3 linked regions of the Homo sapiens genome follow. Each later gene encodes a partner of the first gene's protein in a complex. Each region holds a gene or a part of one and is shown on either strand. Other genes may lie near its edges. The genes, in order: AKAP17A, TTF2 and PPP1R8.

Region 1 (3,751 bases):
GTCCAGGCAGGCCAGAAAAGACTTGACCAGGCTCTTGTTCTCCACCTCCCCCTCGAAGCGGATGAAGTCCATGGTGCTCTTGGAAATACGCAGCGTGGAGAACTGGTGGTTCTGCACCATGCCCTTCAGCCTCTCCATCACCTCCCAGTTGGAGATGGACTTCCCCGGCTGCTTCAGCTGCGGGAGTGCCACGCTGATGGTCATCTTGGTGATGGGCTTCAGGTACAAGCCGTAAGCAGGGCAGAGCTCCACGGCCTCAGACGTGTCGTGCACGATGGTAGCCGCTGCCATAGCCTCCGGGACCTTGGGCCTGAAACATAAGACGCAGACAGTCAGCACCAGCACCCCCCACCTCCCCCGCCAATGAGGAGGGGCCAAGCCAGCAGGCACTTTCTGGACCCGGAGAAGAGAAACAGCAGTGTCTCTCTGCCGTGTCAGAGACCGGTTTCCACTTTGTTAACAGCCATCTCAACGGAGTTCTTTACTTTTTGAAATCATTAAGAGTACACCAAAGGGGAAAGAGCCGAGCTGATAAAGAACAGGTTAGTGTCAAAGCCTCGGTCAGCACTGCCCGACACCCTACATCCAGCAGCCAGCAGCTCCCAAGGCCTGCAGAATAGGAAGCTGAGCACGACCAGGCCCCTCACACAGGTCAAGTAGGAACGGGGACGCTACAAACGCCTAGCTCCACGGGAAGGGGCAGAGAGACACTGGGGAAGGGAAGGGGCCAGGGAGAGCACAGCTGCAGGCATCTGGAAAGGTTTTGTGGAGGGGGCGGCGGCCCTGTACTTGCCCTGATAAAACAGGAAGTCTCGGGCTGCAACAACAATCCAGAACCATGAACCCTAGTAATCTCCACGAAGGCCAAACGTATCCCAGCTTTAACCCACTCAAAGCCAAAAAGTACAACGAACTTTCCACAAGTTAGGGGCCGGAGTCCCCCGTCTGCGCCTTCTTTCTCCGCCCACCTTCATTAACCCACCTCTTCCCTGCTGAGCTGACGGGCAGCCACTTCCTGACGGCCAAGTCCAAGTAGAGGAAGCTTCACTCGCAGAAACCCAACCATCTCAGGTGACCGCCTCCGGCCCGGCCGCCCACCCCATCAACCTGGAGGCTTCCTGCCAGGCCCAGGAGACGGCCTCCTCGCCCAAGCCCGAGGTGGGAGGTGCGAAAGAAGGGAGGGAGGGTGGAGAAGCGACCAGAAAAGGTCAGTGGGGCACCAGGGAGGGGCTCCAGTCTGGACAGAGACCAGTGAACCCTCCCCCAGAACCCAAGCGGCCCCAGCAACTTCACCACCGAGGAACCCTCCCCACTCTGGCCTCCAGCGCCCTCCGACCACCCCGGTACACCTGGCTGCCCAATCCCCAGTACGCGGCATTGCCCCTGGTATTCCCACCTACCGCAGCCCCCCAGCATGGCCTCAGGCTGCCGCTGGCACCCCTGGCAGGGCCCCACACATTCTCAGGCCCTTGGCCACTCGGTACCCTCAGCTCCTCAGTTCCCCGCTCCCCACCACCCTCCTGGATGAGCCCCAATACCCCAACCTACACAGCACCGCCCCAGCCTCCGAAAACCCCGGACAGCCCCTTGCTTCCCACTGTAGACCTAGGAGCGACCGCAGCGCCACGTCCCCTAGTCCCAGGCCTCCTAGTCTCCCGCCCATCCGATCCCCCGAGCTCCCAGCCCTCCGACACCGCTCCAGGCCTCAGCTCCTTCGGTGCAGTCCCAGGAACCGCTCCAGCCCCTACCCCTACTTCCAGGGACCCCCGGACCCCGACCGCAGACCTCCCCAGCCCCCGATTCCCCCGTACAGTTTCAGGCGCTCCCAGCCCCCCGGTGGCACCCCACGCCCCCCAACCCCAGCCCCGTCACCTCCGAGGCCCCTAGGCGCCGCCTCCCAAGCCCCGGCCCCCCGGGCCCGGCCCTAGGAGCGAAGCGTTCGCCGGCTGCAGCCAGGCCCGGGAGGCACGGGGGCGGCACTCACCTGCGCGGGGCTCCGCCTGCGTCCCAGGCCGCCGCCGCCGCTGGCCCAAGCTCCCGCCGTCCCTCGACGATCCCCGGACAGGCGCGGCCTCACCGCCGGGAGCCGCCACCGTCCCCCGGAGGCGCCTCCGACGCCGCCACCGCCGTCGCCGCCCGCCCTCTATGACGCATTTCCACTTCCGGCGCGCGGGCTCGCGGAAGAGGCCGCGCGGCAGCACCGGGTTTCTCCTTCTTGCCCTGGCTCCGCCCCCGGGAGGAGGGACTTCCGGGAGCCCGACCTTTTGCACTGCGCGTGCGCGAGTCCGCCCCGCCCCCATGGTGCCACCTGCCTGCGGGTAACCAGGGGAGGTACTTGGGCCAGGGTCTGTGGTCATAGCCCTTAAGCCAAACAGGAGGGGGGCCGGTGTGGGGTCTAAATTCCAATTGTAGAGTCAAATATATATAACAAAATTCTAAAATGTAATAGGATCCTATAACGGGATTCTATACTATACTTGCAAATTATGGGTAATATACTTGAATAATATAATTTATGTATAAATTAGATATCATATTCTATGACGTAATTATAGAATTACATATAAATTGCTAGTTAATTAACTATTAATTGAATGGTTAATAATTATTAATTGTATATTAATAATTATTAACGCATACCATTACATAATGTAATTATGAAATAATAAATGATAACTTACAATGGTATTATGAAATTAATAATAATTTATATTGCAATTATGAAATAAATGATCATTTCTAATTATAAGATAATTTATAATGTAATTATGAAATAAATATAATGTAATTTAAAAATAAATGATAATCTAATGTAATTATGAAGCAAATGCTATTGTATAATATAATCATAATTTATAATGTAATTTTGGAATAATAAATGATAATCTATAGTGTAATTATGAAATAAATGAAAATATATAATGTAATTCTGAAATGATCATTTATAATGTAATTATGAAATAATAAATGACAATTTATAATGTGATTACAAAATAATAAATGAGGCCAGGTGCGGTGGCTCACGTCTGTAATGCCAGCACTTTGGAGGGCCAAGGCGGGCAGATCACAAGGTCAGGAGTTCAAGACCAGCCTGGGGCCGGGCCCGGTGGCTCATGCCTGTAATCCCAGCACTTTGGGAGGCCGAGATGTGCGGATGATGAGGTCAGGAGATCGAGACCATCCTGGCTAACACGATGAAACCCCGTCTTTACTAAAATACAAAAAATAATCAGCCGGGCGTGGTGGTGGGCACCTGTAGTCCCAGCTACCAGCTACTCGGGAGGCTGTGGCAGGAGAATGGCGTGAACCTGGGAGGTGGGGCTTGCAGTGAGACCGTGCCACTGCACTCCAGCCTGGTTGACAGAGCGAGACTCCATGTCAAAACAAAACAAAAAAAAGACCAGCCTGGCCAGCATGGTGAAACCCCGTCTCTACTAAAAAGACAAAAAACTAGCCGGGTGTGGAGGTGGTTGCCTATAGTCCCAGCTACTCAGGAGGCTGAGGCAGGCCCGAGAATCACTTGAACCCAGGAGGCAGAGGTTGCAGTGAGCGAAGATGGCGCCACTGCACTCCATCCTGGGCAACAGAGCGAGACTCTGTCTCCAATAAATAAATAAATAAGTAATGATAATTTATAATGCATTATTCATTTTTTATTATAATTTATTGTTTATTAAGTATGCCATGCTCTATGTGAGAGGTACGTGCTTCTGACGTCCCAAATATGTCACAAGTCCCCAAACTGGATATC
Region 2 (3,751 bases), on another chromosome or scaffold:
GCACACTCATTTTTCTAGCTGGTTTCACATGAAAATAAGACACAATTTGGCCAGGTGAGGTGGCTCATGCCTGTAATCCCAGTACTCTGGGAGGCTGAGGCAGGCAGACCACTTGAGGCTAGGAGTTTGAGACCAGCCTGGCCAACATGGCAAAAGCCCATGTCTACTAAAAATACAAAAATTAGCTGGGCGTCGTGACACACACCTGTAATCCCAGCTACTCGGGAGGCTGAGACACGAGAATCACCTGAACCTGGGAGGCAGAGGTCGCAGTGAGCTGAGATTGTGCCACTGTACTCCAGCCTGGTTGACAGAGCAAGACTCTGTCTTTTAAAAAAAAAAAAAAAAAAAAAAAGACATGATTAGTCCAAAGCTGTATGTGTTTGCCACACATCCCAATACTCGACCAACATTACCTTTCTTCCTTGTCCTGCTTAACGTAAACACATTACCCAGAAGCCCCACCTTAGCAACCGTTTCCCTACTGAGCACTGACAATGTGCCAAACACCAGACCGAGGCCATCACACACGTTCTCTCTCCAAGTCCTCCAACCCAGGGAAGTTAGGGCCATGTGAGCAATATTCCAGATGAAAAAATGGAGGAAGGAACACGTTTATATGCCCTACCAGGAAATACATCTCATCAGTGCTCTTTCAGCAAGTTTTCATTCTACTTGGACCCAATTCCACTGCTGCTACTTCAATTCAGGCCCATCACCTCTCACTTAAGAGAAAGTTGGTGTGTCTGGAATCAGTTGGACCTGGGTTTAAATCCCAGCAATGCCACTTCATAACCATGGGTCCTCAGATTCCCTTTCTGACCTGTTTCAATGGTAGTTTCTCCATCTTTCTGGTAAACACGGATATTGAAATCTATCACAACAAATTATATGAAGGTAAAAGATAATGAACAGGCTGGGTGCAGTGGCCCACACCTGTAATCCCAGTACTTTGGGAGGCTGAGGTAGGAGGATTGCTTGAGCCCAGGAGATTGAGACCAGGCTGGGTAATACAGTGAGACCGTGTCTCTACAAAAAAAAAAAAAAAAAAAAAAAAAAAAAGGTATATAGTGGGCTTTCAATGGTAGCTATTATTTCAGTGGTCTCTTTGCCCTATTTTCACTTTCTAATCTGTCCTCCATAGTTCTTCTTTTAATGCAAATTGGGTCAAAAATCCTTCAGTGGCTTCCTAACAACTACCACAGTATGTCTGTATGGTAAAGGTCCTCCAGTAGTATGTAAATGGTTTTAAGTATCAGTAGAATATAACTTCATGCAATAAAGGCTTACCAGCCCTACTATACCAGCAGAAAACAATCCAAAAACAAAATTAAAAAAAATTCCATTTACAACAGCACTAAAAAACACAAACACTGAGAAATAAATTTAACAAAAGATGCATAGGAACTCTGTAATGAAAAGTATTAAACAATGCTCAGAGACATTTTTTTTTTGAGACAGAGTCTCGCTCTGTCACCCAAGCTGGAGTGCGGTGGCGCGATCCCGGCTCACTGTAAGCTCTGCCTCCGGGTTCACGCCATTCTCCTGCCTCAGCCTCCTGAGTAGCTGGGACTACAGGCGCCTTCCACCATGCCCGGCTAATTTTTAGTATTTTTAGTAGAGATGGGGTTTCACCTTGTTAGCCATGATGGTCTCGATCTCCTGACCTCGTGATCCGCCCGCCTTGGCCTCCCAAAGTGCTAGGATTGCCGCGCCCAGCTGACATTTTTAAAGTCATAAATAAATGCACTACATTCATGGATTGGAAGCCTCAATATTGACAATTCTCTCCAAATTGATCTATATAGATTCAATGCAATCCCAACAGGGTTTTCTGTGGAAATTTTTAAAAGCTGATTCTACATTTTATATGGAAATGCAAAGATCCTAGAGCAGCCAACGCAATCTTGAAAAAGAATAAAGTCAGAAGACTCACACTATTTTATCTGATTAATTATGTAAAGATAGGCAAATGGATCAATGGAACAGATTAGCAACCCCAGAAATAGACTTACATATATTGGATCAATTGAATTTTTACAAAGACGCCAAGCATTTCAATGGGAAAAGGAAAATCTTCAAAACATGATGCTAAAACAATTGGTAACATATGCAAAAATAAATGAACCTCTACCCTACCTGATATACTACACAAAAGTAATTTAAGATATAGATAATAGACCTATATGAAAAAGCTACTAAAAAAAAAAAGAAGAAGAAAAAAAAAAAACAGGCCAGGTGCAGTAGCTCACACCTGTAATCCTAGCACCTTGGGAGGCCAAGATGTGTAGATTGCCTGAGCTCAGGAGTTCGGGACCAGCCTGGGCAACATGGTGAAACTCCGTTTCTACTAAAATACAAAAAAATTATTGGTGCACACCTGTAGTCCCAGCTACTTGGGACTACTTGGGAGGCTGAGGCATAAGAATTGCTTGAACCCAGGAGATGGTGGTTGCAGTGAGCCAAGATTGTACCACGGCACTCCAGCCTGGAAGACAGAGTGAAACTCTCTCTCTCAAAAACAAACAAACAAACAAACAAAAATAAAACTATAAAGCTTCTAGACAATTCTTGGAAATATTTGTGATATTGGGGTAGGCAAAGATTTCTTGGAGATCAGACAAAAAGCACAAACCATACAAAAATGATGAGCCTCCCGAGTAGCTGAGACTTCAGGAGTGTGCCACCAGGCCCAGCTAATTTTTTTTTGTTTTTTCACTTTTTTTTATTTAGTAGAGATGGGGTTTCACCATGTTGGTTGGCCAGGCTGGTCTCAAACTCCTAATCTCAAGTGATCTGCCCACTTCAGCCTCCCAAAGTGCTGGGATTACAGGCATGAGCCACCATGCCTGGCCTAACTTGTATAGAGAATTTACAAAGAACTCTACCAACTCAGTTTTAAAAAAAGACAAAAATTTTAAAACAGGCAAAGATCTCCAAAGTTATACTTTATGATTCCACTTATGTAACAATTGTGCAATGACAAAATTTTAGAAATGAAAAGCAAATTCCTGATTGCCGGAGTGAAGAGGGCAGAAGGGAGGGAAGGGGGTATGGTTATAGAAAGGGCAACAGAGAGATCCTGTGATGGAACTCTTCAGTACCTTGACTGTAGTGGTAGATACATGACTCGACAGGATAAAATTGTATAGAATATACACACACACATAAATTAGTTCAAGTAAAACTACCTTTACCAATAAAACTGGTGGGTTGTACCAATATTAATATCCTGTTTGTGATATATTTCTAAGCCTTGCAAACGTTACCATTGGGGGAAACTGGATAAAGTCTACAGGGGATAACTCTGTATTATTCCTTACAACTGTATGTGAATCTAAAACTACTTGATAAAAATTTCAATGCAAAAAAAAGGATAAAATATTTAAACAGATAACGTCGAGATTTTCTGATGGCAAATAGGCACACCAAACAAAGTGGTGCATTTATAAATGAAATTCAACTCCACAATAAAAATGAATGAATTACTGATACATATTATATACATTTCACATACTGTTAAGTAAAAGAAGTCAGACACAGAAGAGTACATGCAGTAGGATTTCATTTATATAACGTTCAAGAACAATCAAAACACATCTAAAGAGATAAAAATCAGAACAGTGATTGCTGACAGGGGTGGAGATGGGAGGGGTGAAATTAACTTGAAGGGGACTGATGGCACTTATTGGGGTAATATTTTGACTCGGATCTTGGTTTTATGAGCAGGTACATGCATTCTCAAAACTCA
Region 3 (3,751 bases), on another chromosome or scaffold:
TTTTTTTTTGAGACGAGTCTCTGTCACCCAGGCTGGAGTGCAGTGGCGTGATCTCGGCTCACTACAAGCTCTGCCTCCCGGGTTCACACCATTCTCCTGCCTCAGCCTCCCGAGTAGCTGGGACTACAGGCGTGTGCCACCACGCCCAGCTAATTTTTTGTATTTTTAGAAGAGACAGGGTTTCACCGTGTTAGCCAGGATGGTCTTGATCTCCTGACCTCATGATCCACCCGCCTCAGACTCCCAAAGTGCTGGGATTACAGGGGTGAGCCACCGTGCCTGGCCTGAGATCAACAATTGTATGAAGAGTGGCTGTCTTCTGAAAAAAGGTTCTGTTGGATCTTAATTTTAGATCAATTAGGAAACAAGAAGCACAATGCATGTCTATAAGGTAACAAGATTGCTTTTAGCCTAGTGAAACCGAAAAAAATTGTAATAAGATTGCTTCTCAGAAAATAAACATTCAAATGTATATTTGGGAAAGGAATGAAGTGTAAACACCTATTTCTATTCTAATCATGCTGCCATAGTCCCAAAGTATTTTTGTTTGTTTTTGAGACAGTCTCAAAACAAACAAGTTTCACCATGTTGCCCAGGCTGGTCTCGAACTCCTCACCTCAGGTGAATGGCCAGCCTCAACCTCCCAAAGTGCTGGGATTACCGGTGTTAGCCACCGTGCTAGACCTGAGCTAAATTTAGCTTTATAAAAAACTTGCTGGCCGGGTGCGGTGGCTCAAACCTGTAATCCCAGCACTTTGGGAGGCCGAGGCAGGCGGATCACAAGGTCAGGAGATCAAAACCATCCTGGCTAACACAGTGAAACCCCGTCTCTACTAAAAATACAAAAAAAAAATTAGCCGGGCGTGGTGGCAGGTGCCTGTAGTCCCAGCTACTCGGGAGGCTGAGGCAGGAGAATGGCATGAGCCCGGGAGGCAGAGCTTGCAGTGAGCCGAGATCGGCCACTGCACTCCAGCCTGGGCGACAGAGCAAGACTCTATCTCGAAAACAAAAACAAACAAAAAAATAAAAATAAAAAACTTGCTATACCTGTCCTTATATTTCTTTTAATCCTGGATCAGTAAAGCCTTTGCCACAGATCGGTTATAAACTGGACTGTTATAGATGAAGGACTCTAGATGAATTATTGCTAAAGCTTCTTCCAGTGCTAGTGGTCTAGTAATCCAGTGGGAGCACTTGAGGAATAACTCTCATTTGGGTATGTTGTGTTTTTCCTTTAAACATGAGGTCTCATTAAACGCTAGTTCACATTTCACACTATAGTCCTAAAATCCCTGAGAAAATATAGCATAAAGCTGAGTAGAGTATAGTCAAGTTAGTACCCGGCTGGGAATCAAGAAGCTTATATTTCATTCCTGGCTAAGTCCTTTAACTCACAATGGGCTGCTATTATCCCCTTACAAAACCAAAAGATACACCTCATGCAAGCACAATTTCAGCACTGATTACAGTAACAACTGCTAGGCGCTTCTATGCCACACACTATGCTATGAGTTTTACATTATATCATTTCATCCTCACAACCACCCTATGAGGTGGGTAATACTATTCTCTTCCTATTTTTATAAATGACAAAATTGAGGCATAAAGAAATTAACATACTCAAGTTCACACAGTTAGATACTTGTGGGCCGGGTTAGAAATTCAGATTTGTCTGGCTTCAGAGTCTAAGCTGTTTTAACCACATTATATATTTTCTTCATTCTACTTACATCAAAAAATGCACCATATGGCAAGGAATATTTTAAGGAGAGAATAAGTACTGTGGGTCACACTCTTTTCCTTAAACAATCACTTAGCCAGTTTCTTTCAAGCTCAGCCTTAAGGTTCAATTAATTCAGGCTAGCTTGGATATGTGGGTCACCTCTGGGAAACCCTATCTGGCAGTGCCCATCTGCTGCTGGAAGAGCTTGTTCTGGGCCCACACTACTATGGAGAACCAAGATTCAACAACAGCCTGACAGCTCAGTCAGTCACCTTCATGTCTGCTTTGACCCAAGGTTTTTAAGACTTGAGTTAAAAATAAGACATTATTTCAGGATTAAGAGAGAGCCCAGAAATTTCAACAACTTGTTCTCTCTAGGTAATAGTTATTTGGGCTGAATCTCATTGCACTTCTCATTCATATTTATATGCACATGGATTATGCTGTCACAAACTTAAATTTGCTAACCACAGTGCTCACAGATTGTGCTGAAGGAACATGAAAGACCACCAGCTCTTGGGTTCTAAAATAACAATGACTAAATTTCTATGAATCTAGGGTGCCAAAAGACATACTAGAGATTTAGGGATTTCTTTGAGAGGAAAAAAAAAGAGTGCCTCCAAATTAAATGTACACATTCAGTATTAAAGGCACCCCAATTACAGAAATGTTAAAATGAATGAATTTTTTTTTTGAGATGGAGTCTTGCTTTGTTGCCTAGGCTGCAGTGCAGTGGTGCAATCTCCACTCACTGCAAACTCTGCCTCCTGGGTTCAAGCGATTCTCCTGCCTCAGCCTCCCAAGTAGCTGGGATTATAGGGGTGTGCCACTGCACCTGGCTAATTTTTTTACTTTTAGTAGAGACGGGGTTTTGCCATGCTGGCCAGCCTGGTCTTGAACTCCTGACCTCAGGTGATCTGCCCGCCTCGGCCTCCCAAAGTGCTGGGAGGCCAGGTGTGAGCCGCCACCGCACCTGGCCAAAATGTATGGAATTTTAACAGAAAACAGTATGTCTTAGAACCAAGGAAATGTGTTAGATGTTGAACAATGTGCTGCTTCTGTCCAAGTGAATGAAATAATGCACTGGCTTTCAACAGTCACTAAAGCCGTAGCTTCTTGACTAGCTATGGCCAGTACTGCTATCCAGTTGTGCCTCTGAGTTATAACTCAGAGTGTATCTTTACACACTGGGCTTAAAAGACTCATGGCTTTTGTTTTAATATTGCACTTCTTAAACCCAGCTATCACAACACATCACAAGCCTTTGACACAAGGCTAGGATATAGACAGCTCGGTTAGTATCAAGTGCTGATCAAGTTTAAATCTAAAAATAAGCACATCTCAGGTCTACGCCTCTCAAGAATACAGTGATGTCTAAGGATTGTAACTTGACAACTTTGTGGCAACTCAGCACACTTAACAACATCGAAAGAGAACGTTATCAGCTAATAGACACCAATGATCAGAGGAGTGTCTGGCAAGTTAGAGTGTTTTGAAAATGTAATACCAATTATTCCACAAAGGAATGTGATGTTATCATTAAGACTAGGCAACCCTGTCTGTTTCTTCCTGTTGCAAACTAAAGATTTGCTAAATTCTAGTAATAAAACAGATCCCTATATGTCTTCAAGCTTTGTGCTATTCAGCAACAAATATTTTGTAACTGTGGAACAATCTATAGCAAAAAAGGTTTTACAGATATTTTAGCTAAATTATTTCTTTGAATAATCTTGAGGTTTTAAATCTTTAAGAGAGAAGAACCCATGACAAAGGGGCTCTCTGTGACTGGCTGAGTCCATGATGTATTCATAACAGGAGAAATCATTAAAACTCGTGCATGCCTTAATACTTTGCAAAATACCTGGTTATCTCTACAACATCTCAAAAGTGACAACAATATATTTACAGAGTAACCTTCAAAAGATCTCAGATAGCTTTTCAATCTAGCAACCGTGGAACTGCAACATTTTTATTAAATACCAAAAAACCACAATGAAAAAACTGCATTCAATAATGGGGCCTTGAACC

Evidence for each region.
Region 2: AKAP17A (region 1) and TTF2 share a complex: the UniProt entries of both Homo sapiens proteins name them as parts of the spliceosome.
Region 3: AKAP17A (region 1) and PPP1R8 share a complex: the UniProt entries of both Homo sapiens proteins name them as parts of the spliceosome.

Annotation. Positions count from the first base shown.
Region 1 is NC_000023.11:1,590,003-1,593,753, reverse strand, and holds the start of AKAP17A (A-kinase anchor protein 17A), read right to left. Parts: upstream 2,151-3,751; 5' UTR 1,985-2,150; intron 311-1,984; 5' UTR 292-310; coding exon 1-291. UniProt on the Homo sapiens protein: Splice factor regulating alternative splice site selection for certain mRNA precursors. Mediates regulation of pre-mRNA splicing in a PKA-dependent manner.
Region 2 is NC_000001.11:117,063,300-117,067,050, reverse strand, and holds part of TTF2 (transcription termination factor 2), read right to left. Parts: intron 1-3,751. UniProt on the Homo sapiens protein: DsDNA-dependent ATPase which acts as a transcription termination factor by coupling ATP hydrolysis with removal of RNA polymerase II from the DNA template. May contribute to mitotic transcription repression. May also be involved in pre-mRNA splicing.
Region 3 is NC_000001.11:27,833,684-27,837,434, reverse strand, and holds part of PPP1R8 (nuclear inhibitor of protein phosphatase 1), read right to left. Parts: intron 3,035-3,751; exon of another isoform or gene 2,869-3,034; intron 1-2,868. UniProt on the Homo sapiens protein: Inhibitor subunit of the major nuclear protein phosphatase-1 (PP-1). It has RNA-binding activity but does not cleave RNA and may target PP-1 to RNA-associated substrates. May also be involved in pre-mRNA splicing.